Linked DNA regions of Homo sapiens. The protein of the gene in region 1 interacts with the protein of each later gene in a biochemical or structural test. Each region holds a gene or a part of one and is shown in the gene's direction. Other genes may lie near its edges. The genes, in order: SKP2, ELF4, CDC34, PDCD4, TLE5, FOXO1 and ESR1.

What was found.
Region 2: of the proteins of SKP2 (region 1) and ELF4, one has a biochemical effect on the other in vitro, tested with the Homo sapiens proteins (one study listed by BioGRID).
Region 3: the proteins of SKP2 (region 1) and CDC34 form a complex in vitro, tested with the Homo sapiens proteins (3 studies listed by BioGRID, with this or other methods).
Region 4: of the proteins of SKP2 (region 1) and PDCD4, one has a biochemical effect on the other in vitro, tested with the Homo sapiens proteins (one study listed by BioGRID).
Region 5: the proteins of SKP2 (region 1) and TLE5 form a complex in vitro, tested with the Homo sapiens proteins (one study listed by BioGRID).
Region 6: the proteins of SKP2 (region 1) and FOXO1 form a complex in vitro, tested with the Homo sapiens proteins (one study listed by BioGRID).
Region 7: of the proteins of SKP2 (region 1) and ESR1, one has a biochemical effect on the other in vitro, tested with the Homo sapiens proteins (one study listed by BioGRID).

What each region holds. Positions count from the first base shown.
Region 1 is NC_000005.10:36,154,994-36,159,060, forward strand, and holds part of SKP2 (S-phase kinase-associated protein 2), read left to right. Parts: intron 1-4,067. UniProt on the Homo sapiens protein: Substrate recognition component of a SCF (SKP1-CUL1-F-box protein) E3 ubiquitin-protein ligase complex which mediates the ubiquitination and subsequent proteasomal degradation of target proteins involved in cell cycle progression, signal transduction and transcription.
Region 2 is NC_000023.11:130,072,498-130,076,564, reverse strand, and holds part of ELF4 (ETS-related transcription factor Elf-4), read left to right. Parts: intron 1-1,812; coding exon 1,813-1,984; intron 1,985-2,356; exon of another isoform or gene 2,357-2,407; coding exon of another isoform or gene 2,408-2,423; coding exon 2,424-2,516; intron 2,517-4,067. UniProt on the Homo sapiens protein: Transcriptional activator that binds to DNA sequences containing the consensus 5'-WGGA-3'. Transactivates promoters of the hematopoietic growth factor genes CSF2, IL3, IL8, and of the bovine lysozyme gene.
Region 3 is NC_000019.10:538,149-542,215, forward strand, and holds the end of CDC34 (ubiquitin-conjugating enzyme E2 R1), read left to right. Parts: intron 1-529; coding exon of another isoform or gene 530-842; exon of another isoform or gene 843-888; intron 889-3,190; coding exon 3,191-3,404; 3' UTR 3,405-3,939; downstream 3,940-4,067. UniProt on the Homo sapiens protein: E2 ubiquitin-conjugating enzyme that accepts ubiquitin from an E1 ubiquitin-activating protein, and catalyzes its covalent attachment to other proteins by an E3 ubiquitin-protein ligase complex. In vitro catalyzes 'Lys-48'-linked polyubiquitination.
Region 4 is NC_000010.11:110,874,382-110,878,448, forward strand, and holds part of PDCD4 (programmed cell death protein 4), read left to right. Parts: intron 1-1,584; 5' UTR 1,585-1,646; coding exon 1,647-1,689; intron 1,690-2,288; exon of another isoform or gene 2,289-2,362; coding exon of another isoform or gene 2,363-2,372; intron 2,373-4,067. UniProt on the Homo sapiens protein: Inhibits translation initiation and cap-dependent translation. May excert its function by hindering the interaction between EIF4A1 and EIF4G. Inhibits the helicase activity of EIF4A. Modulates the activation of JUN kinase.
Region 5 is NC_000019.10:3,059,634-3,064,486, reverse strand, and holds the start of TLE5 (TLE family member 5), read left to right. Parts: upstream 1-1,991; 5' UTR 1,992-2,286; coding exon 2,287-2,313; intron 2,314-3,229; coding exon 3,230-3,327; intron 3,328-4,853. UniProt on the Homo sapiens protein: Transcriptional corepressor. Acts as a dominant repressor towards other family members. Inhibits NF-kappa-B-regulated gene expression. May be required for the initiation and maintenance of the differentiated state.
Region 6 is NC_000013.11:40,656,486-40,660,552, reverse strand, and holds part of FOXO1 (forkhead box protein O1), read left to right. Parts: intron 1-4,067. UniProt on the Homo sapiens protein: Transcription factor that is the main target of insulin signaling and regulates metabolic homeostasis in response to oxidative stress.
Region 7 is NC_000006.12:151,946,902-151,950,968, forward strand, and holds part of ESR1 (estrogen receptor), read left to right. Parts: intron 1-4,067.

The sequences.
Region 1 (4,067 bases):
AACAGATTAAACATTTAAAGATGAAGTCTTGCAGACCCAAGGTAATTTAAGTATATTCATAAATTCTCCCATCTGGTTTCCTTTGCAGAAGGGTTGATAGATTGGTTGTTTAGTTGATTGGTTGGTTGCTCGCTTTGGCAGCACATATACTGAAACTGGAAATACAGAGAAGATTAGCATGGCCCCTGCGCAGGAAGACATGCGGATTCGAGATGCATTCCACTTTTAATTAAGAAAATAAATACGTTTGTTTTCAGCCTTTTCTTTAGGAAAGAGAACTTTGCCCAATTTATGGTCTGGGAATATACATCAGGAATTGGATTAGTTAGAAAAGCAGTAGAGGGTTGTAGTGAAGTCAGATCTGGGTTTGAATCCTCATTCTTGCGTTTATCAGCCTTGGAAAGTTATTCGAGCTTTCTTTGCCTTAGTTCCTTTATCTGTGAAATGGAGTGCTGTAATAATACCCACTTCACAGGTCGTCGTGAAGATTAAATGAGAATGACGTAAAACCCTTAGCATGCCACTGACACGTAACAATACATAAGCCAACAAAATTCCTGACACCAATTTTGGAGGCTAGTGGACTTTTATCTTTTGTTTTTAATATTGTTACTCTGACCCTGTTAGTATAAAATTTTTTTTCTTCAAAATTTAATGTTCACCGCTCTTCTTTGTGTCTGGAATGTAGCCCTAACAATCTGGTGCTTGACCAACCAAATATGGCGAAAGATACTTCCTGCTAAGATGAACAGATTTTTATTAACCTGTCCAGTGCCGATAGCTTTTGACATAGAGTGTGATTGCTATATGCCCTTCCACAAGTGAAAAAGAATTTTTTTTAAGCAAGGCACTGTGGGAACAAGACAGAAGTTTCCGGAGTCTTTGCTATTTCCCAGGAATTTGCAAGTCAAGTTGAGGAGAAAATACAATAAAAAATAAGAGCTGTGATTCCCATTCAGGTGGATGTGGAAGATCTTCCTCCTTCCACTCAGCAAGAAAGGAGATTCTGAGGAAAGAGAGGGCTCTGAAAATGGTGTAATCAGTGTCTTGATGGTTAAAGCTGACTTCAAAAGTATATATCTGAAGGGAGAGAGAAAGAATGGTGACTTTTATGTTTATTACCTAAGGAGAGGCACAGAGGGAAACCAATGTACGTGGACTTACAACAGAGATTGCTTAATTGGTGTGGAGTGGGGAAGGGTGAAATCAGTGATGCAGGATGAGGGACAGCTGGTATAGAGGATTCCCAATGGGCCTTTGGAAGCCTGGGCCTCCAGTGGAGCCGGATTGTCATTCCAAGGAGTTTTGTCTGCAGTTGTCAGGACAGGTGGCTACTAGCTTTGCCAGGATTAGGGTAGAACAGGCCACACCTGCTGTACATAGATATCTGATGACTGGTTCTGGGCTGCAAGTTTTTGTTGGTTCTTTGCTAAGCAGTTTCTCCCTGCAGGCCCCAGTCCAGCCGTACATCTGGCAACTAAATCCTCTTCATCCGTTTATCTGGGAAGATGAAAGCTCTGTGGCCAACCTGTACTAGAACAGGTCTGATTGGCCCTTGGAGTGAGTGTATGGAAAGAGTTGGGGAGGAAATGGCCCAGCAATGAGGTCAGTAACAGGCGGAAAGGGGACAATTGCATTTTATTTATGGTCATGAAATGCTTGTCCCCCACCCCACCCTTTAAACAGGTGATAGCCATGAAAATGGAGGTGAACTAATTTGTTGATCAGCTCTTCCATGACTCTTAAATGCTTGAAATTCCAGACCCTAAAGTGGTTGTCAGACTGGAGATACTAAAATTTACTGTATATCAGAATCCCCACAGGAACTTGTTCAAAGTGTAAAATTCCTGAGATTCTGATCCGGGGAGTCCTGGCCTGAGTGAGCCTGGGAATCTGTGTCTTAATACCCTTAGGCAAGCATTTTTTCCAACTTTTTTTTTTTAACCAGTAAGAAACATATTTTACATTGCAATCCTGGGTATGTATCTGAAACAGCAGTTTTACAAAACTGTATTTCCCCTTACTAAGATATTTTCTATTCTGTTCTAGTTCATTCTTTATATGTACATATATGCTAGTCAAACCCACTAAATTGATTTCATGATCTATGTGAGTCTCAGTCTACAGTTACTAAACTCAGCACTGGAAGAGCCTTTATGGGATCTTCCCAGTCATCTTTCTTTGTTCCATAGCTTCCTTTCATTCATCCATTAAGCAAATATTTCTCAAGCACCGTTTTAGAGGTTGGGACTACAATACTGAACATAACAGGCAAGAGACCCTGCCCTCATAGTGCTTATACACTGTTCCATATTTTTTCCAAATCCCAGCTTCTGTTGTTTCTTCATTACACCCCCTACACCTCAGGGTTGAGCAAGTCTTTCATAGAAATAAAGGGTTGTGGGACTGAAGGGGTACATGGGGGAATCCTTGTTAAGTTTGGCTGTGTTTTGTTTTTTTCAGTTTTGCCCACCTTAGCCAAAAAAACAAAAACACCCAAAGCCAACATGGCCTCAAATGTATTATTTATGGTTTGTGGGAAGAGGAAGGAGAACTCATCTGGGATGGCACAATCTGTTTGTAGTTCCCCAGAAAGAAAGCATGGGGTATTGCTACTTAAAACAAGCCAGCAAAAGCAATTCTGAGGTGAGCACCCCCCAACTCCCTGAAAGAAATGCACACACACACAAAAACAAGTATGAGTACCAGGTCCTCAGTATACATTTCTGCAAGTATAATCTGATTATGCTTAAAGAGCAGCAATTTTTTAAGTCAAAAGTTTGATTATGATTAGCATTACTTTGGATTTTCAGCTTGAATCTGAGTGGAGTGGAGTGATGTTCTGAGAAATAAATGAGTGGAGTGATATTCTGAGAAATAAATATGTCAAGTAAGATGAGTTACCTACACTGCAAAGATGGAATGCATAGAAAACTCTCCAACAAGGCCCTCTTCCCAGAGAATTTCAGGAAGCATGAGATGTGATAAGGTTACAGAAGTGGGAAACTGGGTTTGCACCTGAGAAATAATTGGAAACAGTGGTAGGTGAGGGTGATTGTAGTAGGTTTGCTGGTTTGGCCCAGTTTTTGCCCTTTCCTGGCCCTGAAGTATATTTAACTGCCGTCCATGTCATTGAAGACTGGAGACCTTGGGCTCAGTAATTATGTCTTTTAATGTGGGTCTGGTATGCAGCTACAGCCTTGCTGGATTTAGCAGAGACAAGTGGAGAAAAGACCTCTGGATTTTTCCTTCCGCTCTCTGCAAACAGACCAGGCAGCAGTTTCATCATGAATTCAGGAAACAGATGGCTAATGTTTTGAGAATTAAATATGGCAAGGAAAATTAGATTAAGCATATCACAGCCTGGATGCCTATTGCTAGAGCAGCTATTAAAGACAAACTTCTGCCCCATCTGCTGGGACAGCAGCCCATATCAGGCTGTGGTACCCCCACCCGGGGCCCCTAGGATTAGTGTCATTCTGTGGTCAGCTGAGTAAGAGCACTGGGTACTTGGCTGCTAGCTGAGTATGTGTGTTTTCTAGGACCTTGCTCCTTCCATTTGGTGGTGAACCCATTGATAGCATCTTTGTTTTATTTTCTCTCTCCTCCTCCACTCACTCCCTAGCCCTGATTGATTTCTGTTTCCATAGCAAGTCCGGGTTTAATTCTCACCTTTTCAAAATTTGTACTTACAACAGAGGAGAGCATAGAATATTAGAACCCACTAGGATGGAAAGGGCATGATTTGAAATCAGACCTGAGTTTAAATTCCCCCTCTGCCACTTACTGATTGTGTGACCTTGTCTCTTTTATCATAGTTGCATGTTTTCTTGAAGCCCCAGCCCCCATCTCCCAGAGACTACAGCTATACTGATAGAGGACATTCCCTTCTGCTCTGGGTTTTTGTCTTCAGCCTCATCCCCTCCATATGCCAACAGTGCTGTGCACATAGTCGTTAATTGGTTAATAAGGGTTAGCCATTCACACTAATAAAGAATTAGCACATTCACCATTTGAATGAAGAGGGCTAATAAATACATTTGGCAAATATTTATAGAGTCCTGTTA
Region 2 (4,067 bases), on another chromosome or scaffold:
AGCTACTCGGGAAGGTGAGGCAGTAGAATTGCTTGAACCTGGGAGGTGGAGGTTGCAGTAAGCCAAGATCGTGCCACTGCACTCCAGCCTGGGTGACAGAGCCAGACTCTGTCTCAGAAAAAGAAAAGAAAAGAAAACTATGATTAACATCCTGGCATATTTATTTATTTATAGAGGTTTTTTCTTTTTAATTTTTTTTTAAATAGAGATAGGGTCTTGCTGTGTTGCCCAGGCTGGTGTGTGAACTCCTAGGCTCAAGCGATGCACCTGCCTCAGCCTCCCAAAGTGCTGGCATTACAGGCATGAGCCACCACATGCAGCCTCTATATGGAGTTTTTTTAAAAAAAACACATGCAGTCATACTGCTTTTTAATTTCGCTTTGCTTAATTTCAAAACACTTCTGTTCTCTAGGGGTTGAATTCTCATCTCAATTTTCTTATCTACTCCAAGGGATTGAACGACCACCAGCTCCCTTTTGAACTGTTAGACACTTATTTTTGACTCCCTGATAGGCGTCTCTATTTCAGATGTCCCAAAGGTACCTCAAGCTCACCACATCCAGACATTGTAGCCCTTATCTTGGTCCACAGCCTGCTCTTCCTCCTCCTGGGCCCTCCCTTGGCATGAGCAGTATCTCCATGTCCCTGTTGAATGAAGCTGGAAATTGAACCCCTCTCCCCCATCCAGGCAGTGACTGAGTCCTGACATTTCTACTTCTATAATGCCTCTGTTCTGTCTTCATTCCCACTATCATTGCCACAGACGGAGCCCGAAGATGTCTGAGCCCCTAACTCTGGCTGCGAACTAGGTCCCCAGCCCTGACTCTAGACTGAATCCCTCTTGTCCCCCGACTATAGGTTGAGCCCCTTGCCCTTGCCATCAGCTGGTCTATTCCCAATGGCCTTAGAATGAATCTAATCCTCATAGACTGAGCCCTAACCTGGCCACGGGTTAAACCATAACTACAACCAGTTAAAAATACTTGCCTGGCCGGGTGCAGTGGCTCACGCCTGTAATCCCAGCACTTTGGGAGGCCGAGGTGGGTGGATCACGAGGTCAGGAGATCGAGACCATCCTGGCTAACACGGTGAAACTCCATCTCTACTAAAAATACAAAAAATTAGACAGGTGTGGTGGCGGGTGCCTGTAGTCCCAGCTACTCGGGAGGCTGAGGCAGGAGAATGGCGTGAACCCAGGAGGCGGAGTTTGCAGTGAGCCAAGATTGCGCCACTGCCCTCCAGCCTGGGCGACAGAGTGAGACTCCGTCTCAAAAAAAAAAAAAAAAGCTTGCCCTTGGCTGGGCATGGTGGCTCACGCCTGTAATCCCAGCACTTTGGGAGGCTGAGGCAGGTGGATCACCTGAGGTCAGGAGTTCGAGACCAGCCTGGCCAACATGATGAAACCTTGTCTCTACAAAAACTATAAAAATTAGCCAGGCATGGTGGCACACACCTGTAATCCCAACTACTGGGGAAGCTGAGGTAGGAGAATCGCTTGAACCCGGGAGGCGGAGGTTGCAGTGAGCTGAGATCATGCCACTGCACTCTAGCCTGGGCGACAGAGCGAGGCTCTATCTCAAAAAAAAAAAAATGCTTAAAGGGCTGGTGGTGCAGAGCTAACCCATCTATTCATCAAGAACCCACTCAAAGCATCACCTAATGAGGCTGGACCCAGAGTTATATCATCCTATACAAAGGACAGTCCCTGATGAACCCAAGAATAAGGACTTGCACAGAGGGCCAGATTCTGGTAGGGAGGGTTTGCTGGAAGAGCTGGGTGGGTCTTGAATCACATCCCTGTCTTCTCCATAGCTGGAAGACCCCTCTGTGTTCCCAGCTGTGATCGTGGAGCAGGTACCCTACCCTGATTTACTGCATCTGTACTCGGGACTGGAGTTGGACGACGTTCACAATGGCATCATAACAGACGGGACCTTGTGCATGACGCAGGATCAGATCCTGGAAGGCAGTTTTTTGCTGACAGGTCTGTTCCCTTCCTGGGCAGAGAAGGTGTGGTAGAAAAAGGGGCTGTGTCTTTAGGGAACAGCAGCCCACAATGGCCTCTAGTAACCCCGTGCAGAATGGGCAAGTCCACCAGCCAAAAAGTTGTGCTGCTTCACAGAGGAGGGAACCATCTTAGTAGATTCATGGTCTGTGGAAGTGGGGTGGGACAATGAGGAGTGAAGACCAGCTGAGGGGGTGGAGAGTTAGGTAAGGAGGGGTGCTGGGCCCTTCCTGGCTGTCCCTCAGTACCTCTGGTCAGGGTCCCCTGTTTCTCCCTCACTTAGCACTCACTTCAGGGTCAGCCCGAAGGATGCTTACCACCATCCTTTCTTCGGGCTGGCCCTGATTATAGCTGTACCCCCTGCCTTGTGCCCTGAGGGAACTTTTCTTCTCTCCTCCCACCATGGAACCCGGACCAGATGACAATGAGGCCACCTCGCACACCATGTCAACCGCGGAAGTCTTACTCAATATGGAGTCTCCCAGCGATATCCTGGATGAGAAGCAGATCTGTAAGTTTGAACCCCAGTGCCTGAACTCAAGGCAACAAAATAATTCCATTTAAAAATATGAAATCCATGTATTGGTTTCTCAGGCATGTGTGCACACAGGTATACATGCACCACACCCACCGATATACATATGACTTTTATCTTTTTGTATTTTGGTGATGGGTTTATTTCAATTAGCACGATGTCCTCAAAGTCCATCCATGTTGTAGCACGTGTCAGAATTTCTTTCCATTTTCAGGCCAGGCACGGTGGCTCACGCCTGTAATCCCAGCACTTTGGGAGGCTGAGGCGGGTGGGTCACCTGAGGTCAGGAGTTCGAGACCAGCCTGACCAACACGGTGAAACCCCATCTTTACTAAAAATATAAAAACTTGCTGGGCGTGGTGGCGCAAGCCTGTAATCCCAGCTACTCAGGAGGCTGAGGCAGGAGAATCACTTGAACCCAGGAGGCAGAGGTTGCAGTTAGCCGAGATCGCACCATTGCACTCCAGCCTGGGTGACAAGAGCGAACCTCTGTCTCAAAAAAATAATAATAATTTATTTCCATTTCAGGCTGAATAATATTGGCCAGGGTGCCTTTCTCAGGCCCCTCTGCTCTTTTGCTTAGCTCCCAGGAAGACTGAGATATGCAGCATGTGGCTCTTTTAGAAATAAGTGATCCAGGCCGGGTGTGGTGGCTCACACCTGTAATCCCAGCACTTTGGGAGGCTGAGGCGGGTGGAATACGAGGTCAGGAGTTCGAGACTGGCCTGGCCAACATGGCAAAACCTCGTCTCTACTAAAAATACAAAAATTAGCCTGGCGTGGTGGCACATGCCTATAATCCCAGCTACTTGGGAGGCTGAGGCAGGAGAATCGCTTGAACCCGGGAGGCAGAGGTTGCAATGAGCCGAGATCACACTATTGCACTCCAGCCTGGGCAACAAGAGCAAGACTGTCTAAATAAATAAATAAATAAAATAAAGAAATAAGTGATCCTTGCCCATCCTACCAGGCTCCTAACTCCCCAGAGGGCCCCCAAGGCAGGCTCTTCCCAATGACCCCTCAGGCAGATGCACAGGAGGGTTCCCCCAGATTGCCTTCTCCCAAGGGGTGGTGTGGTACAGTGAGGGAAGGCAAGCCATAAAGCTGAAATCTGAGAGATTTCTAGTCCTGACTCTCACCAGTATTCATCCAGGATCCAATAATGGGTGCCTATTTGTACCGGGCACCAACTTGCTGTGTGACCTTGGGCACATGACTTCCCCTCTCTGGGTCTGTCTCAGTTTCCTCATCAGGAAAACACAGGAATGGGGCTACATGATCTCTAAGGCCCCTTTGAGTCGTAAAATGAGCCAAGGACTAAATCAAGGTGGCCCTTTACCTGGGGTGCCGCCTAGAACTTCCCTACCACCAACAGTGGGCTATAAATGTGGCAGCTGTAATTGGGGCCAGCTTGTGCCCACAGCTCTGCAGATGTTTCCTCTCCTCGTGGTACAAGCCACATGAGGCATTTTCAGGTGTATCCTGTGTCTGGGGCTGGGGGGATGAGCCCCCCGCCCTCCCTTGGAA
Region 3 (4,067 bases), on another chromosome or scaffold:
GCTTTAATGAAAAAATGGGGTCGTGCTGTGTGTGCCCAGTGACTGACTGTTAGTCAGGGGTGTTGGCCTTACTCATGTCTGGAGTGCGTCCCTGCAGGCTCTTGGCCTGGTGAGCTCTGGGTACAGCTGTGCAGTCGCCTACCGGCGCCTTCTGTACCTGCAGTCCACTTAGCTTGCGTGGCTGTGTGTGGTGACCCACGGCTCTCCCTCTCCTCCCATCGCCCTCATGCCCCAGAGCTGAGCCCCACAGCCCCTTCTCTTGGGTGCCTGTGTTCACATGAATGTGTAAACACGTGCGTGTCTGTGTACAAAGACAAGGCTTTCTTTACGGGTTGACGGCCTTAATGGTTCCTGCTCTTCCTGTTACATAGAGGCCCTTCCTATCCATTTTTTTTTTTTCTCAGAGTGATATTGCATAGATTTCCTCACAGAGGCCTCACCTATTTTTGTTGGTATTTTGTATAAACAGAATCTTAAAAACAACTTTTAAAATATTGCACACATAATGCATGTGTCTTCCTCGCCCCAGGACCCAGGAGCATCCAGGGCACCTTCCATCCTGCACTCGCTGGTACCTGGTGTCGTGGGGTCATCTCGGGGCAGCATCCTGGTGCTGGGCGGTCTCGGCTCTGAGCAGCCATGGTGGGCGGGCCCCGTGCGGCCTCCTGGGAAGTGGCCTGCAAGCACCTGCTGGCCTCTGGAGGTCACAGGGTAGCTGCCCTGGCCGTCCCTCTGGTGCAGATGTCCTCGGTGGCCCCGGTCCGGTCGTGTCACCTGGCCCAGGTGGCTGGCTCCTTGGCCCGGTTCTTCCCGGCCACCTCCCTGAGGCACCACCTCCTTGAGATCCCAGCACAGAAATAAAAGCCACACTATTTTTATCCCTCAAAACTCCCTGTGGGCCAACACACATGTGCCATGTGGACTCTGCTGTGGTCGCCGTTTCTGCCTGTTTTTTCATCTGTGTGCGTGTTGGCCTCGTGGCAGCCCAAGTCCCGCTGAGCTGTGTCGGGCAGGCTGCCGTGGAGCCCGGCTTGGTCAGGGATGTTGGTCTTGCTGAACAGGACCTCCAGACCGTCCTCCAGCTCATGCTGGCGGTGTGCCGGCGGCACCTCCACGGTGCAGGTCAGTTCCCACCCTGGCCCTCCCCTGCGTCTCCCCACAGCCGCCACCTCTGCGGTGCCGTCCCCGGGGCACCGTCACCCCCCCAGCCCGTCCACCCTGGCCCTCCCCTGCGTCTCCCCACTGCTGCCACCCGTGCAGTGCCGTCCCCGGGGCACTGTCAGTCACCCCCCCAGCCCATCGGAGAGCTTGGAAAGCAAAGCTTGGCGTCCGCTGGGTCCCGCCACCCAGGGACGTCCCTGAGGCCAGACGCCTGCCCTCCACGCGTCATGCATCCCCATAAAAAGCACTGGGCTTGTGGGCTGGGCTTGGGGCTGTCTGTCTGCTCCCTGGTGCCCTCCCATGCGGGCACTGTGGGACCCGCACACCCTGGTAGCAGCCAGCCCCAGAGCCCAGAGCCGTGCCTGGTCGGTGATAGGGGCTCGAGCCCATTGCCTGCGGCTGCAGCCTCGTTCCTGTTTTCTGTCAAATGGGGTCAGCGTGCCGCCTGGCCCTGCTGTGCCACCCCCGGAAGCCCCTTTGCTTCCAGTCCTGGGGGGACATTCTTGACGCGTGTCCTGGAGGTGGAGCCGGGGGCAGGTTCCTCGTAGGTCCTGGTGTGCGCGGTGCAGCCCCTCATAGGGCCGGGTGTACACGGTGCCCTCCAGGAAGTTTGAGCTAACTTGTCCTCCCTTCCTGCCAGAGGCTGGGATGGCCAGGCCCCCCAGGTTTAGAATCCGGAGGCCGGGGTGGCCAGGCCCCCAGGTTTAGAATCCGGAGGCCGGGGTGGCCAGGCCCCCCACGTTTAGAATCCGGAGGCCGGGGTGGCCAGGCCCCCCAGGTTTAGAATCCGGAGGCCGGGGTGGCCAGGCCCCCCACGTTTAGAATCCGGAGGCCGGGGTGGCCAGGCCCCCCGGGTTTAGAATCCGGAGGCCGGGGTGGCCAGGCCCCCCGGGTTTAGAATCCGGAGGCCGGGGTGGCCAGGCCCCCCGGGTTTAGAATCCGGAGGCCGGGGTGGCCAGGCCCCCCGGTTTAGAATCCGGAGGCCGGGGTGGCCAGGCCCCCCGGGTTTAGAATCCGGAGGCCGGGGTGGCCAGGCCCCCCGGGTTTAGAATCCGGAGGCCGGGGTGGCCAGGCCCCCCGGGTTTAGAATCCGGAGGCCGGGGTGGCCAGGCCCCCCGGGTTTAGAATCCGGAGGCCGGGGTGGCCAGGCCCCCCGGGTTTAGAATCCGGAGGCCGGGGTGGCCAGGCCCCCCGGGTTTAGAATCCGGAGGCCGGGGTGGCCAGGCCCCCCGGGTTTAGAATCCGGAGGCCGGGGTGGCCAGGCCCCCCGGGTTTAGAATCCGGAGGCCGGGGTGGCCAGGCCCCCCGGGTTTAGAATCCGGAGGCCGGGGTGGCCAGGCCCCCCGGGTTTAGAATCCGGAGGCCGGGGTGGCCAGGCCCCCCACGTTTAGAATCCGGAGGCCGGGGTGGCCAGGCCCCCGGGTTTAGAATCCGGAGGCTGGGATGGCCAGGCCCCCGGGTTTAGAATCCAGAGGCTGGGATGGCCAGGCCCCCCGGTTTAGAATCCGGAGGCCGGGGTGGCCAGGCCCCCGGGTTTAGAATCCTGCTGAGGCCACGGAGAGGCTCAGGCCGTTTTTGCGTTTCCCATCTCACCTGTGCTGGTTCCCGTCTCCAGGGATGGTCCTGCCTCCTGTCCTTGGGCCCTCCCAGCTGCTTCCTTTGCTCCTGCGCTGAGGAAGGCTTTTGCCCCCCAGTGGGGCAGCATGGGCCCTCCCTGTTGCCGGCATCGTTATTTTCTCCCAGCTCCTGATGGGTCCCTTGGGTTGTGCTTCGGGGCGGGGCAGGCGGGTGTGACTGCACTGCGCCCGTCCAGCCTCCCACCCGCACCTCCTGCCCTTCCCGAGCCCCCTCCTCTGTCATTTCTCCCCCTGGAGTTCCTCACGCACAGGGCTTTGTCCTAAGTGGTCGCCACACGCCGTTTTAAGAGAAACCTGAGCGTTGGGGTGAGCGTCGGACCTGGGGGAGGGGGGCCGGGCAGGGGCCGAGTCCAGGCACGTGGGTGGCGCCCTCACCCACCCTGTCCCCCCAGGAAGCAGGTCCTGGGGACCAAGGTGGACGCGGAGCGTGACGGCGTGAAGGTGCCCACCACGCTGGCCGAGTACTGCGTGAAGACCAAGGCGCCGGCGCCCGACGAGGGCTCAGACCTCTTCTACGACGACTACTACGAGGACGGCGAGGTGGAGGAGGAGGCCGACAGCTGCTTCGGGGACGATGAGGATGACTCTGGCACGGAGGAGTCCTGACACCACCAGAATAAACTTGCCGAGTTTACCTCACTAGGGCCGGACCCGTGGCTCCTTAGACGACAGACTACCTCACGGAGGTTTTGTGCTGGTCCCCGTCTCCTCTGGTTGTTTCGTTTTGGCTTTTTCTCCCTCCCCATGTCTGTTCTGGGTTTTCACGTGCTTCAGAGAAGAGGGGCTGCCCCACCGCCACTCACGTCACTCGGGGCTCGGTGGACGGGCCCAGGGTGGGAGCGGCCGGCCCACCTGTCCCCTCGGGAGGGGAGCTGAGCCCGACTTCTACCGGGGTCCCCCAGCTTCCGGACTGGCCGCACCCCGGAGGAGCCACGGGGGCGCTGCTGGGAACGTGGGCGGGGGGCCGTTTCCTGACACTACCAGCCTGGGAGGCCCAGGTGTAGCGGTCCGAGGGGCCCGGTCCTGCCTGTCAGCTCCAGGTCCTGGAGCCACGTCCAGCACAGAGTGGACGGATTCACCGTGGCCGACTCTTTTCCCTGCTTTGGTTTGTTTGAAATCTAAATAAAACTACTTTATGAGAGGCCAGAGAAGCTGTGCTTGGGAGGGAGAGGCAGCCTCCACGTCCATGAGTGACTGCACACGGCCAGTCCCACTGGGACCCTGGCTACGCCAGGTGTGGATCTGGGAGGCCTGTCCTGGGAGGCACGG
Region 4 (4,067 bases), on another chromosome or scaffold:
TGACATTATTCCTTTCCTATATGTATTTCATGCATGGAATTAAAACAGAATGTAGCCTTTTCAGCCATGAAGGATGCTGAGTGTTTAGATTTGCAAACCATTTTTGTTCATATATTTATATGAATCTCTACATATTTTTAAGATTTTTTTTTCATATCTAAAGTTGGCGGGAGTTATAGTGAAAAGTGATTATAAAGATTCACATATATTAATTTATTCTTAACAGAATTAGAGAATGATCTCACCATTTTCTTAAGTTCCCAAGCAATATGATAGCATATTAGTCTGAGGATTATACCATAGTAAGAAGCCTATAATTTTAACATAAGGTCCATTTGTTTTTGTTTCACAAAATAATACCGTTTTCTGAAGAAAAGGGCTATAAACTTATGTTAGCAAATAGTAGTACATAATGAGGAATTTAAAAGTCAGTTTCACCTTTGAGTCCCAGGAGGCTCTGTATATATCATTGTTATCCTAAAATGACATCTAACAGTAGGTTAAGTTATATAGGAAAAAATGTGCTTTTCTGTAATTAATTTATTAGGCATTTTCACTAATTTGTGCATTTTATATCTCTGAAGAGCACACTGCTAGCAACCTGATTGTAAATGACCAGAAGGACTTATATCCAACCTATGTGACTTAAACATACACTTAAGTACTCTAAACCACTATTTAAAAAATACTTCTAGAGAGATTCTGAAATCTTAATTTGGTTGCACTTTCTGGTAATATATTTTTTGAAAACTATTTTGATATTTCTTTCATATAACATTATTGGATCTGTATCACTAAGTTAATTGTCTAAAAGGTAACTGATTTCATCAAACCTTCCAGTATTAATAATTTTTAAGCCATTTTGAAACTGAGGCCTAAAATACTGAAATGCTTATGTCGTTGTACTTACTCCTTTCTGAAATGATCAGATTTTTAAAAAATGGATTTCTCATATAAATAATATTATCAAAAAAGGATTTCTCATATAAATAATATTATCAAAAAAGCTGATTTTAAAAGTTTCTCCCAAAGTCTTATTCTAGTAATTATAGAGACCTAGGTAATGAGTGGCAGATATATCTGCCTTTCAGATATGCCGTAATGTGAAAAATAACACAGTCATGTGATATTCTTTATTAACTAAAACTGTGTTGTTTTTATTTTGGAGTAGTTCTCATAATTCATTGGTAGGGAACTATCCAGTATTTATATTCCTATGTATGTATATCAGATTAATTTTGAGGCTTGGTATTCCTAAAAGATTTGGATGTGTGTATTTCTTTAACTTGACGTAAACATGTATCACAAACATATCTTTTAATTCCAATTAAAGGGGTGCTTTGGCACATGCTGAAATCTGGGATTTTTTTTTTTGACTTTGATAAATTTATCAAAAAGATTGGAACCAAATGTTAATTAGGGTAAGTTGTCTTTGAAAGTAAAGTGAACTGTTTTATTTAATGGAATTGTGTGTTTTTTGTTGTTGTCGTTTGTTTTTACAGTGTGCTTAAGTAAGTTTAATTCAGCTTAATTACATCAGTTTAAAAGATCTTGAAGCTTTCTTTTTTTCTTTTAAAAAAACAGATTCTGAAGGAAGATTTCCATTAGGTAATTTGTTTAATCAGTGCAAGCGAAATTAAGGGAAAATGGATGTAGAAAATGAGCAGATACTGAATGTAAACCCTGCAGGTAAGTAAGGATATCCTTTTTTCTTTTTTTCTTCGTTTTGAGACAGGATCTTGCTCTGTCACCCAGGCTGGAGTGCAGTGGTGTGATCATGGCTCACTGCAGTTTTGACTTTCCTGGGCTTAAGAGATCCTCCCCTATCTCAGCCTCCTCAGCAGCTGGGACAACAGGTGTGTGCCACCACACCAGGCTAATTTTTTATTTTTTGTAGAGATAGGATTTCACTATGTTGCCTAGGCTGAAATATCTTGAAGCTTGACTATGTTGTGAGGAAGCTTCAGACCATTCCATATTTTATAAAAACATGATAGAAAAACTATCTTTAAATACTCTTTTATTCATGCTGTAAGAAAACAGGCTATATTATTTTTAAAGTCAAGTTTGTGATTTTTATTTTCATGGAAATTCATTACATGTCCTATTTTTCTGCCTATCCTTTCACATTCCACATATTCCTATTCTCTGTTATATAGTACAGAATAGAGAAGAATAGTGAGCCTGCTTATTTTCACATGGGCTAGTTAGTGATTTCTGTAATATAAACTTACTGGTATCTTTGGTATCTTTCCTAACAAATAATTTTTATATTCTAAATTACCTAGGGTATTTTCCCTAATTCTCCATGGTGCTTCAATAGCATGTTATTATCATAAAAATGAACAGTTTTGTGGAATAGATGACCAAATGTGAGTAACTCAAGATAATTTAAAATGTATTTATAGTTTTAAAAATAATCTCCCAAAAAGTTAATTAGAATTGTGTAATATCTGAATAGTGAGAACAGTTCATATTGGTATACTTTGGATAATTCTTTGTCTTATAATTTTATTAATATTGAAAGCTATTTTCTGTCATTTTAAGTGTATTTCGTAACTAAATACTACATCTTTCTTTCCTCAGTGACTTAACTCACTATTGTTTACAATGTACATAGTTTTCTTTGATCTGAACAAACATGTTGAATTTGAAGCTTCTTTACCATTGTTTATTTACAGATCTTTTTAAAGTATGGTAAAAAATTGAAAAAAATTTATGTAATTAATGATCATTTCTGTGCTGCTGTATACAATAGCTGTATGAGTATGCTTTAGGGTTATAAATGGATAATATGTACCTACTTAATTGAGATGGGGATGGTAATACAGTTTAGAATATATTTTACATATAGGTAATTGCTTCTTTTCTGCACTGTCCAGTATGGTGACCACTAGCTACATGTGGTTATTACTCCTGGGCTCAAGTGATCCTCCCTCTTCAGCCTCCTCAGTAGCTGGATTACAGGCGTGTGCACCACTGTGCTTAGCCACATGTGTTTGTTGAGTACTTGAAATGTGGCTACTCTGAGTTGAGATGAAGGTCAACTATCTCAATAATTTGTTATATTGCTTGCATGTTGAGATGATATGGTTATATTAGATTAAATAAAATATATTTAAATTAATTTCACCTGTTTTTACTTTTTAATGTGGCTACTGGAAAATTTAAAATTTCTTATATGGCTTGCATTCTATTTCTATTAGAAATAGAAACACAGCTTTAAAATGTGTACTTTTTGTTTCCTAACTACAATAAGACCTAGTTCTAACCCTGTTCTTGGTGCTTGTGTCCAGCACTGCTTTAAAATAAAAGACTTGTTCTTCAATATTTGAATAGGCCTAAGATAGACCCTCTTTGTAGTAAATTCTTCACATAGCAAATAGTCCAAGTCACACTCTTACTCTTTTACTTGGAGGAAGTAGGTTATTCTGACCTTCAGTTTTTTCATGTATAAAATTGGGATATAAATACCCTCTGTATAGATTTATAATTAGGATTTAGTGAGATATTGTATATGTGTGTTAAGTCTGTGAAGCACATACTAGGTATGTAATACATGAAAGTGTGGTAATGTTATTCTAATTATGCCACTCATTGGACACCAGTAATTGAAAATGTGATTTTCTGGTGCTGTGGTCATATACAATTGGAGTGGTTACTATTGAGATATCAGAATTCAGAAAGAGGGAATTAGTACACAGTAGGAAACAATTTTGAAGTCAATCACATTCTGTACTCAGCTTATCATTTTAATTTTGGTTTTCTTAAAGTCAGCTCAATAGGGGTTATGGAACTCCAACAGTTAGGTGAGTATGAGTAACAAAATATAAAGCAATTAATACAAACATGGGTTAAAAATGATAAGGTCAAATATATAAATTATACTGAGAGAATGTTTACTGCTGCAGAGACACAAACATACTTGAAAGGATGTTAAAATTGTTGAAGAAAAGAAAACTCGATTATGGGAAATAGATGTATTTAAATTGAATACTCCAAGGGACAGTTTAAGACATTTTATTATAGTTCTGACTCCTGTGTCTTCTGGACCAGTTTTGTGGTTC
Region 5 (4,853 bases), on another chromosome or scaffold:
CTTACCTGCCAAGGTAAGGAGCCTGGGGTTCCAAGTCTATTTTACAGATGGGAACACCCAAGGCCCAAATCAATTGCATTCATTCAAGGGAGCAGGCTGCCTAGTGGATGACGATGATGAAGAGACTGTGTTTCGCACCTGCCAAAGGGGGACCTTAATGTCATAGCCTTATTTCAGTAGCCTCTTTGGGACCTGTTCTCTGCGTGGCAGAGAGAGGGATCCTTTAATAACCGCCACCAGGTCCCATCCCTCCTCTTCCCACGGCTCTCCAGGATTCCCACCTCACTCAGAGCAAAAGCCCAAGTCCAGGGCCAGGCGCAGTGGCTCACACCTGTAATCCCTGCACTCTGGGAGGTGGAGGCGGGAGGATCACCTGATGTCAGGATTTCAAGACCAGTCTGGCCAATATGGTGAAACCTGTCTCTACTAAATATACAAAAATTAGCCAGGCGTGGTGATGCGCACCTGTAATCCCAGCTACTCAGGAGGCAGAGGCAGGAGAATCACTTGAATCCGGGTGGCAGAGGCTGCAGTCAGCCAACATCACATCACTGCACTCCAGCCTGGGCAACAGAGTGAGACTCCATCTCAAAAACAAACAAACAGCTGATCACGGTGGCTCACGCCTGTAATCCCAGCACTTTGGGAGGCCGAGGCGGGCAGATCATCTGAGGTCGGGAGTTCAAGACCAGCCTGACCAACATGGAGAAACCCCGTCTCTACTAAAACTCCAAAATTAGCGGGGCGTGGTGGCACGTGCCTGTAATCCAGCTACTCGGGAGGCTGAGGCAGGAATCACTTGAACCCAGGATGCGGTGAGCTGAGATTGTGCCATTGTACTCCAGCCTGGGCAACAAGAGCGAAACTCCATCTCAAAAAACAAACCAACCAACCACCAGGTCCCGTCCCTCCTCCTCCCACAGCCTTCCAGGGCTCCTACCTCACTCAGAGCAAAATCCCAAGTCCTCCCCAAGACCCACAAGTCCTTGCTGGACTGGCCTGCTTCACCAGCTACAGAGTTAGCAGGGCCCAGTGCAAAAGAAAACTCAAAGGCCCCTTGTTCAAAAATGATTAGAAATCTCAAAATGCAGCAGTAAATATTAACCCAAGCACAAGCCCTGCTGTGGGGTGGGGGGGCCCTGGACAAAAGCACGAAGCCCCCGGCCCTGCCTCCCTCCGGCCTTCCTGACCTCCCCCCGGGCACTCTGCTGCCAGGCACAGTCCTGCCCCAGGGCCTTTGCACCTGTTGGTCCTGCCTCTGACTACCTCTGTACCCCATCCCCCTGTTCTCCCTCCTTCTTCAGGTCGCTTTAGGGGTGGAGGAAGCCGTCTCTGATCCTCCCTCCCACCTCTTTAACTTTGCACCTTCCTACCCTGCCATTCTCCCGGCTGGTTTTTCTGCAGAACTGTCCCCACCATCTGACCTGCCAGGAATTCAGCTTGTGAATTTGTCTCTGTCTGTCTCCAGGCACCACCACCAGGGCAGGGACCCACCCCCGCCCCGCCCCACCCCAGGGCCCTGGAGCAGCGGGGCCTGGCACACAGTAGGCGTTCTATAAATGTGTCACAAGAATGGCTTCCCTCAGGAAGGCGGCATTACCGCTGCCTTTCTGCAGAAAAGGAAACTAAGGCTCAGCAAGAACCACCGCCCAGCCAGAGCCAAGGTCACAGAGCACGTCCGTGGCACGCGTCCAGGTCGTGCCACAGCAGGGCCGGCGGCTTCGACGCGGGCAGCCGGGTCCCTTTTCTTTGACAGATGGGGAAACCGAGGCCCGGCCGGCTGCCGGGTAGGAGAGGGTGGCGGGGGCCGCTGCCCGGGGCGGGGGCGGGCCGGGCCCAAGGTCACCGCGGCGGGCGGGCCACGGGGAGGCGGGCCGGCGTGGGGATCCGCAGGCCTCCCCGGGCGCGCGCGTCCCCCCCCTCGGCGGCGCGCACGGGGCACGGGCGGCGGCAGGTGGAGCCGAAGCCTCCGCAGCAGCCGAGCCGCGGCCACTGCCGGCGTCGCCGCCATTAGACAATAGCGGTGGGGCCGGGGAGCGGGGAGGCGGGCGGCGGGGAGGGGCGGGGAGGGGCGCCGGGCGCGCAGGAAGCGGGGCCCGGGGCGCGCCGGGGCCGGGCGCGCGGGGAGGGGGCGCAGGAAGCGGGCGAGGCCGGGCGCGGGAGGCGGCGGCGGCCCCGGGAGCTGCCGATCGGCGCCGGGACAAAGGCGCGGCCGCCCGGCGCCCCCAGCAGCCCGAGCCGGGGCGCACAGCCGGGGCGCAGCCCGCGCCCCCCGCCGCGATTGACATGATGTTTCCACAAAGCAGGCATTCGGTAAGCGGGGCCCGTCCGGCCGGCGCCCCCACCCCGGATCCGGGCCCTACGCCCCCGACCCCCGGCTCCCGGCCCCGCGCCCCCCAACCCCCAGGCCCGGTGCCTCCGGCCCGGCGCCCCCCCCAACTCCCCGGCCCTGTCTTCCCTCTCCAGCTCCCAGCCCGGCGCGACCCCCCTCCCCTCCTGCCGCCGGCCCCCGGACACCCCCCCTCCAGTTCCCGATCCACCCCAGCTTCCGGGCCCCGAGCCCCCCCGCCGCAGCTCCCGGCTTGGCGCCCCCCCCCCCCAACCCGCCGGGACAGTCAGGGCCTCGGACGGCCTTGGCCTCGGGCCTGGGGCGCTCCGGAAGCCCCGCGAGGCACCTCTAGCCCGGGGATCCTTTGGGGGCCTGTGGTGGGGGGGGTGATCCGAGGCGCACCCCTCCCGGAAGAGCGTGTCCCCGAGGAAGGGCGCTGGGAATCTGGGGTTGGGCCCCCCCGGAAGATTTCGAGCACCGAGAGAGAGACCCCTCCCCCAAGAGGACTTTGCAGGGAGGAATCGCTGCCCCCCAACTTGGGGAGGGGGCTCCCTAGGGCGCGTTTCTACCCCCCTCGGATGTGCACTCCCTCCCGGCGCTTTGGAGGGCGGTAGAGGGCGCACCCTGCCCCCCATCTAGGGCGGGCCTTAAAACGCACCCCCACTGCCTGGGGGTGGCGGGGGACGGGGCGGCTCCGGGCGCACCCACCCGCTCGGCTTCCCCCGGGAGAGGCGGGGGGCAGGAAGCGCGGGTGGGGTCGCGCCAGGGGCCGTAAACACGGGCCCAGGAAGTGGGGCAGGAGGGGGGGCGCCGCAGCTGCGCGGCCGCTCCCTCCTAGCCGGCCCTTGAGGGGGGTCCAGCCCACGCCTGGGCCTGACCCGGGCCGCCCCATCCCTACAGGGCTCCTCGCACCTACCCCAGCAACTCAAATTCACCACCTCGGACTCCTGCGACCGCATCAAAGACGAATTTCAGCTACTGCAAGCTCAGTACCACAGGTGAGCTGGGGGACTGGGGGTCCCTGCGTCCCGAGAATGTGAGTCCCCCCATTTCTTCTGCGCAGATGGCAAGGCTGAGGCCTGGAGATTGGGAAAATAATATATGCTAGACTCTGACCTAATCACTTGACAAATACTGAATTCATTTATTTTAAACAGCCCCATTTTGTAGAGGAGAAAACCGAGGCACAAAAATAGTTAAATAATTTGCCCAAAGATTCAGCTGTGTGGCTTCAGAGCCCCTCCCTCCTCCCCAATACCCCCAAGTCCCCCATTGGATAAAAGACCTTCCAACAATTGGAGTTACGGCACGGACTCGCCATCCCTCAACCCCCAAAACAGAAACATTCTGCAGCCTGGTCATCTCTCTCTTTGCCCAGTTTTGGAGAAAGGGTTCCCAGCACCCGTCAGATTCTCCAAGGTGCTGCTTCTTTCAGAAATCTGGCGTTTCTGAAGAGCTTGCCACGCTGCGGTATCTAAGGGGAAGGAACTATTTAGTCCTCTTACACTTAAAGAAACTTAAGCCCAGGCCAGGCGTGGTGGCTCATGCCTGTAATCCCAGCACTTTGGGAGGCCGAGGAAGGTGGATCACTTGAGGTCAGGAGTTCGAGACCAGCCTGGCCAACATGGTGAAACCCCGTCTCTACCAAAAATACATAGTTAGCTGGGTGTGGTGGCGGGCGCCTGTAATCCCAGCTACTCGGGTGGCTGAGGCAGGAAACTTGCTTGAACCCGTGAGGCGGAGGTTGCAGTGAGCAGAGATGGAGCCACTGCTCTCCAGCCTGGGTAACAGGGAGACTCTGTCTCAAAAAAAAAAAAAAAAAAAAAAAAGAAAGAAAAAAAGAAACTTAAGCCCAGAGATGTTATGATGTTATTTCCTCGGGGGTGTCCATAGCATTGAGGAAGTGGCAAGGCTGAGGTTTGCACCAGGTCTCTCTCCTGGTTTAAGGATATAGGTTCTCGCCTGCCCTGCTCTGGAGGGGCACGCCGGGCCTGGGAATCTGGAGAAAGTCAGGCTATGCTCAAACCCCCGTTTGGCCTTGGGGCCCTCTCTAAACTGAAGCGTGCCCACCCCAGAAGTGTTCCTGGAAGGATCCTGGATTTCCTCCAAGTAGAAAGGGGAATCTCGATTTTGTTGTTGCTGCTGCAAATATCCCACCTTTTTGGGTACTCCCTGTGTGCTCAAGACCGTTCGTGCCTCCTCGTGCTTCATCCTTCCTGTCGTCCGACTGTCGTACCCATTCTCAAGCTGGGCAAACTGAGACACTGACAGTCGAAGGTGCTGGAGTCAGCTTTCCATGCAGGCCCCAGAAGCTTTTGTGCGGGTTCCTCGATATGAAGGGTTGGATACCGCCTGGTGAGCCCCGGGGCTGACCTGATTCCACAGGGAAGGGATCAGATGGCGGTCACAGTGCTGTGTGACCTCTGCTAAGCCGGAAGCCCTCTCTGAGCTTTGGGGTCTCCATCCGCTGGGCCTGGGCTTCCTGCTGTCCAACGAGGGACCCTACCATATCAGAGGCACACAC
Region 6 (4,067 bases), on another chromosome or scaffold:
GTTGCCTGTCCTTGTGCTTCTAGCCCCTTCATCCAAGCATCTAAACTGCAGTTTTGTGTTAGGCTTTCTAAGATAGCAGCTGTATTTGGCTGGAATTTCTCTGGGGAAGCCTGAATGATTTGCATTTTTCTGGAACACTCTGCCCTTGGAAACTACCCAGTTCCCTGGCATCATGGGAATTTACCCAGCCATTTTTTTGGCCTATATGTGCTGTAGCTTTGGGGCTTTTTGGGGATCCTCTTGGAAAGGCAGTGTAAATACCACATAGTGATTGGGGAAGGCAGAATTTTCAATTGTGTGGGAGTTGGTCTGCTTCCCTGCAGTTCAAGATTTGCCTTTGCCTTTGTAGCAACAACTTGCAGAGACTTGCCCAGCCCCCCCAGGATCTCCCTGGGGTCATATAACCAAGCACCTTTTCTTGGTACATAAAGAATTCTGATGCTTCTGGTGGTGTTCCTCAGCTGTGAAACAGAAGACCACATGTACTTGAAAAAGTATGTATTTTGATGCCTAAGGGATATGCTGTGTACAAATACTTAGAGTGTGGAAGACATCTTCCTCTTTGCCAGTTGCTGATGAGGATGAACAAAAATCAAGTCAGTGGCACAGAAATTCTTTTGTAGGTATTACTACTTGTTATTTGTAGTCTTCTAAGGAACATAGGAAACATGAAAAACACATTTTTGTACGTTGGCTATTTTATATGGTTCAGCCTTTTTAAAAACTTGCTTTATTCATTAGCATCCCAGTTTACTCTATTCCGTCTTCTCCCTGTGGTTTATCAACTTGTAGGTTAAGCACCGCCAATAGTTGAATCTAGGGTTGACTTATTCTTGCTACTTGGCAGGCATTTGGGCTACTTTTTTTTTCTTTCATCCATTTTTGTATAGTTTTGATAAAAACTAAAAAGGAAAACAAAAAAGCAAGTTAGTTTTGATATTAAGTCAAATACTACTAAAAAGGTAAATCTGCAGCTCCTCATCATACAATTTAGTGAATTTTTACCTTCACTTATTACTTTAATAAGGACATAAGTTCAAAATGTGTCCTTTATTTCAAGCCATATTCATTACAGGAAAAAAAAAAAATCAAGGGAGAGCTGTTTAGGGAATTAGCCTGTGTAGCCCCCAATTCTGGTTTTTGTTCTGATGATCCCTGAAGCTACACTCTTTATGAGAGTTGGGCGTGTGTGTGTCTAAGTCTTCCTTTTCTTTTCTTTTCTTTTTTTTTTTTTTTTTGAGACGGAGTCTTGCTCTGTCACCCAGGCTGGAGTGCAGTGGCGTGATCTCAGCCCCCTGCAACCTCTGCCTCCCAGGTTCAGGTGATTCTCCTGCCTCAGCCTCCCGAGTAGCTGGGATTACAGGCACATGCCACCACACCTGGATAATTTTTGTATTTTTAGTAGAGACAGGGTTTCACCATGTTGGTCAGGCTGGTCTCGAACTCCTAACCTCGTGATCTGCCCACCTAAAGTGCTGGGATTACAGGCGTGAGCCACTGGGCCCAGCCTAAGTCTTCCTTTTCTTTTCTTTTTCTTTTTTGAGATGGAGTCTTGCTCAGTCATCCAGGCTGGAGTGCAGTGGTGCAATCTTGGCTCACTGCAAGCTCCGCCTCCCGGGTTCACGCTATTCTCCTGCCTCAGCCTCCTGAGTAGCTGAGACTACAGGCGCCCACCACCACGCCCGGCTAATTTTTTTTTGTATTTTTAGTAGAGACGGGATTTCACCGTGTTAGCCAGGATGGTCTCCATCTCCTGACCTTGTGATCCACCCGCCTCGGCCTCCCAAAGTGCTAGGATTACAGGCGTAAGCCACTGCGCCCGGCCACGTCTTCCTTTTCTTAGCTTTGCTTTGAGAAATCGTTTCTTATCTTGGATTCCATTACAATGGTCCTCCTGCCATCTGGCTTCTCCAGTTGGTTCGCTTATTTTTCCTTCTCCTATCCTCATTCATAAGTATACCTCAGGACTAGTTGTGGACTTTTTCTCTGGTATTTTCTTAGGTAACTTACTCTCTGTTGCCTTGTGTATCCAGTTACCTAAAGGCTCTGGAGGTCCCACTTTTATCTCAAATCCAGCATGTCTAAAACTGAACATACTGTATTTCCCCCTGCCCTCAGATGGCTCATTTCAAGGTCCCCAGTTGGGTTAATGGTCTAGTTAGTTCTTTCCCTAGTTTTCAAACCTTGGTGTCTTCTTGAGCACTCTCCTGGTGTTTAGTGTTCCCAAGTCTGTTAACTCTTCTTTCTCAGGGTCTGTTGAGACTTTCCGTTCCTACCCGCTAACCATTCCCCTCGTTTAGCTTTTAGTATTTCAGGCCTAGACGCTCCTGTCCCCAGAGCTTAGATCATCTTGAGCCCTGAAATTCAGCAGATCTTGCTCAGTGTGCAAGGTTCAAGTCAGTTCACCAACTTCCAATCTTGGCTCCTACCCAGAGGAATTTTTGTCCTCTGAGTGAATATCTGGTAATCTTTTAATTCATGCTGCTGTGTATTATATATAATTTAACTTTAATGTCTGTATGTCTTGGCTTCTCAGTTACATTGTAAATATGTTGTTAGGAAAAAAATTCTTTCTTGATACATGGGTCTTTTATATTTCAGCTTCCTGTGTGTTGAGAATATCACAGTCTGTATCATGTGAGAATAATTTAAGAAGTAGTATAACTAAAGAACAGTGATTATTTTGTTTTCAACAGATTGTCAGAGTCCTTTTTTTTCCATTTATTTGTTGAATAATTACTGTGTACAAGATGTGCTAGGTGTTTTTGAGTGGTAGCAATGACTCAAAACATAGATCCAGTAGGAAGACTAGATGCAATGTGTAAGTAACTATGATATACAGTGGGAAGAGTTAAGTGTCTTAGAGAAAAATGAAGTTCTGTATTGGCCGTTGAACCAGGCTTTGAAAATGGGAGATTGGGCCTGGCACAGTGGGTCATGCCTGTAATCCCAGCACTTTGGGAGGCCAAGGTGGGCAGATCATTTGAGGTCAGGAGTTAGAAACCAGCTTGGCCAACATGGCAACACCCTGTCACTGCTAAAAATAGAAGAGATTAAGTGAGTGTGGTGGCATGCATCTGTAGTCCCAGCTACTTGTGAGGCTGAGGCAGGAGAATTGCTTGAACTTGGGGCAGGGGGTTGGAGGGGTGGAGGTTGCGGTTAGCCGAGATCACGCCACTGTAGTCCAGCCTGGGCGACACAGCAAGACTCCCATCTCAAAAAAAAAAAAAAAAGAAAAAAAAGGATGGGAGATTGTTCCCTTACGATTTCGCTATGAAAATTTTCAAGCATTCAGCAAAATTGGAAGAATTTCTACTACCTTTTCTACTAATGACATTTCATTATGCTTGCTTGATCATATATCTGTGTAAATGCACATCTTTCTGTCCATTAGTTCATCTTATTTTCAAGATATATTTTTGGGATGGTGGACTGGCATTCATAAAGGCCTGAAAATATGGGAAGCATCAGTTTCTCTGAGTGCGAAGTCAGGAGATTGAGACCATCCTGGCTAACACGGTGAAATCCCGTCTCTACTAAAAAGACAGAAAAAAATTAGCCAAGTGTGGTGGCGGGTGCCTGTAGTCACAGCTACTCGGGAGGCTGAGGCGGGAGAATGGTGTGAATCCAGGAGGCGGAGCTTACAGTGAGCCTGGATCGTGCCACTGCACTCCAGCCTGGGCGACAGAGAGAGACTCGGTCTCAAAAAAAAAAAAAAATTTCTCAGAGTGATAGGCATGTGAAATACACAAACAGTTTGAAAAGTATAGGTAGAAAGGACATATTATGAAAATAATGCTGTGTTATGGACCAAATTTATCAAATGATATCTTTGTTTTTGCCAAATAAGAAATTATGAAAATATGATTACATTAAACAATTTTAAAATGCAACTACTTAGGAACACACTTGTGTAAATATGGAGACCTATGGAATGCAATTTATAGCCAGTGTACTGCAGTTGATTTTGAAACTGACATACGGAATTTGGCAATACATAGAACAGATTATGTAATTGACTTAATGTGAATAGTTGGCATTTACAATGTATTTAGCTTTTTGCTTGA
Region 7 (4,067 bases), on another chromosome or scaffold:
TTTTATATATTCAAATACCATCTGTTATTTAAAAAACATAGCCCACACTGAATATCTGATATAGACAATATAACGTTTATGAGATAATAGTTTGAGAATGACAATAATAATAGTAAGTTTTAAAAGAGGAAATAAGCCGGGCACAGTGGCTCATGCCTGTAATCCCAGCACTTTGGGAGGCCGAGGCGGGTGGATCACCTGAGGTCAGGAGTTCAAGACCAGCCTGGCCAACATGACAAAACCCTGTCTCTACAAAACAGTACAAAAATTAGCCAGGCTTGGTGGCACACATCCATAGTCCCAGGTACTTGGGATGTTGAGGTGGGAGAATTGCTTGAACCTGGGAGGCAGAGACTGCAGTGAGCCGAGACCCCACAACTGCACTCCGGCCTGGGCAACAATGAGACTCTGTCTCTAAATAAATAAATAAAGAAGGAAATAGTAAATGTCATTAGTAAGAAGAATAGCAAAATTTCAGTTCTAGAAATACCCAGAATTAGCTATATGATACAAAAACCCTCATGAAACATTTGGATAATCCTCAGAATACCTATCAATATAACAAAAACTATGAATTGACTTCATTTTGAATGATGAATTTTTAACAAAAATAGTCAATACTTTGGGCTTAGTAGCTCTAGAAGTGCTTCTTTCTTCTTTCTTTTAATTAACAGAATATTGTCAGAATTTTCAAATGTTGATGATTATAAGTTGAATTTTCCTTTTCATTAACCCCTGGGGCTTATTTTTTGACTTGATATGTTTCTCTACTCAGAATTAAGATGTGAAGAGCTTTGGGATAGAATGCATCATACAAGTGTGAGAGTCAAGTTCCAATCCATAAAGTACTTCTGGTAGACCTGGATAAAGATGACCTTAAGAAATGATTTTTTTTCTCTTTGCAGTTTAAAAACAACAGTAGCAACAAGAATGATAAAACCTATGAAGCCAGCTCTGACAAAAGATGTTTTTTTTATAACACATACTATGTATCTACTTTTTGATATTTATCTATCGAGAAGACTTTTCTCCTTATTGTTTGCTCTGAAATTTGTTTATATTTAATAGGAATTTTATAGCCTTATCCCTGGGTAGAAATTCAGTTTTTTTAAAAGTAGATAATTAAATCTTAATTTACTATTATTTTACACATGGTGAAACTAGTCAATAAATGTAATATCATTGAGCTGAAGGTTAAAAAGGAAAAAATATGACTGCAAGAGTGGTTGTATTTTTGATTTCAGCATCACACTCAATTGCATCATTGAGTGGTTCATTCTTAGTTTCAGTGTTAATGAAATACATCTGAGTTTTTTTCCCCAGAAGCTTGAATTGTGTCACCAAAGTGTCATTTTGATTTATTGAAAGTTAAGCCCTTTCCAAAATTCACCATAATTTTACATGTCTCGAAAGCAATTTTATACTTCAAGTCTGTGCTATAGTTCTATATATTTTATGAAGATTTGGATAGATATCTAGCCCTGAGTTTTTTATTGCCTGTTAAATACTTATAACCCAAAGTGTAGCAGCCTCATGAACTGCTGCTGGGCACAGATCTGGGAGAGTGCACTCAGAGTGTTGGCCCAGGAAGAGGAAAAGAGGAAAAGGGGCAGTTCAGTGGCAGCTTGGCTTCCTGTGAAACATGTCACCTTAACCACTTCCTCATTCTTTTAGTGGCAAACTAGACGACCTTCTCCTTCCCCTTTCCTGCCGAGTCCCCCTCTAATCAACACTCTAGAAGGCCCCTCTTCCTCCTCAGTCCTGACTCCCTGTCATTTACTTCAGGTTGCCTCCTTGCTCAGTTTTGGCCCCAGGGGTAGGCAATCTCCTCTTTCTGGACATGTCTCCCACCAGCCCCAAGTTCAGATTTCTTGGAAGTTTCTGTGTTGTCTCGAGGATGCATGGTTGTGTGAGTTATTCCAGGGCTCAAGGCCTCTTCTGTGTCTGTATTCCCCAGGAATCCAGGAATTCACTTCTCTGCCTCTCATCCTCATCCTCATCATTAAAATGAGCAGATTTGAGCTCAGGAAGTGCTTGAATAAATGAATAAATGAACAAATGAAAGGTGATTTTTGAAAGTCTTAATTTTAAGAAGTCTCTGAGCCCTGTTACAGCTCAATTTTCCCATAAACTAGAACTGCTCTCTAAGGCTGTGACATTTCTCCTTTTTCCTCTCCTCAAAATCTACCTGCTGTTCTGATATCTCCCTGACAGCCACCATAGTGAGATTCTATTTCCATTTCCAATCTCTCTTTTGTAAGGGACAGAGAAACAGCTAGAGAAATATGGAGCCATGCGCTCTGAGGACTTTAGCAGGCTTCAACTCTATCTGCAAGTGAGTTTCACTTAGCGAATGAAATTGGAAACTTAAAGTGGGTAGGGATGAGGGTTCCCGGAGAAGGTGTAATACCTCAGTCTGGGAATTGGGAGCATCTACAAGGAACACACTCAATTCTGGGAGGTTCCTGTAGATTTCAGAGATTTAGCAGGGCTTCCCAGCACTCTGCTTCCCAACCTGTCATTGGACCAGTAAACCCTGCTCTCAAACTGTTGTGGTGTCCAGCATGCTTTGGCAAGGTAATGAAAGATAACATGACATGGACATATGGGTGACATCCTGGAGAGATGACAGAAGCCTCTGTTTAAGGACAAGATTTGCCATTTAGATTTTGCACCCACTGTATAATAAGAGCCTTAGGATTGGGCTGGAATCGCCCTAGCAGGCATGATGGCAGCCCCTCTGGACTGGCAATATGCAGCTTTTTTGCAAGTGTTCCATGTCCAAGTCACCCCACCCAGCTTTCTACTGCTCCCGTGGAAGCTCTGGTGAAACGCAAGGAAAGCAGCTGCTGTTGACTGGATTTTTCTTTCACATGAAACTTTGAAGCCTCATAGATGCTTATTGGCCTGGATGCTATTAAACCTTTAAAAATCCCTTTCTCATCTTGAGAGTATTTGAGAAACATGTCTGGGGCATTTTGCCCACCCTCCTCCAGGTTCTGTGTCAGTGAGTGATATGGTTTGCCTGTGTCCCCACCCAAATTTCATCTTGAATTCCCATCTGTTGTAGGAGAGACCCATGGCAGGTAGTTGAATCATGGGAGCAGGTCTTTCCCATGTTCCTGTGATAGTGAGTAAGTCTCAAGAGATCTGATGGTGTTAAAAAGGGGAGTTTTTCTGCACAAGCTCTTCTTCTCTTGTCTGCCACCATGTGAGATGTGCCTTCCACCTTCTGCCATGATTGTGAGGCCTCCCCAGCCACAATGGAACTGTAAGTCCATTAAGCCTCTTTCTTTTGTAAATTGCCTACTCTGGGATGTGTCTTTATGAGCAGTGTGAAAACAGACTAATACAGTGAGTCTGGGTCAGTGTGTGTTTATGTTGAACGTAGTGGACTTGTGGTGTCCCCAGGGCACCCTGTGGGGAATGTTGGCCTGTGGCTTTGCTACTTCCAGGGGGATTTGGCATGGAGAATGTGTGTTTTAAGTAATAGATAGATTATGATTGAAGTGTGTTATGGGCTGAGTTGTCTCTCCTCAAAAAGACATGTTAAAGTCCTAACCCCCAGTATCTCAGAATCTGACCTTCTTTGGAAATAGTGCCTTTATATAGGTAATCAACTTCAAGTGAAGTCATTAGCACAAGCCCTAATCCAATAAGGACTGGCATTCTAATGAAAGGGGAAATTTAGACATAGAAACAGACATGCACAGAAGAAGATGATATGAAGAGACACAGGAAGAGGACGGTCATGTGACTGGAGTGCTGGGTCTGCAAGCTGAGAAATGCCAAGGTTTACTGGCTAACATCGGAAACTAGAAGGGGCAAGAGTGGACTCTCCCCCTCAGAGAGAGTATGGCCTTGATTTCAGACTTCTAGCCTCCAGAACTGTGAGGCGTACATTTCTGTTGTTTTTGAAGCCACCTAGTTTTTGATACTTTGTATGGGAGCCCTAGGAAATTAATACAAAGTGTATTAAAAATAGAATTTTCTTCTATTGTATTTTTGAGGCAAAAGAAATAAGGAGCTATTGATTTAAGGAGGAAGGTTTGGCTCATCTAGTATAG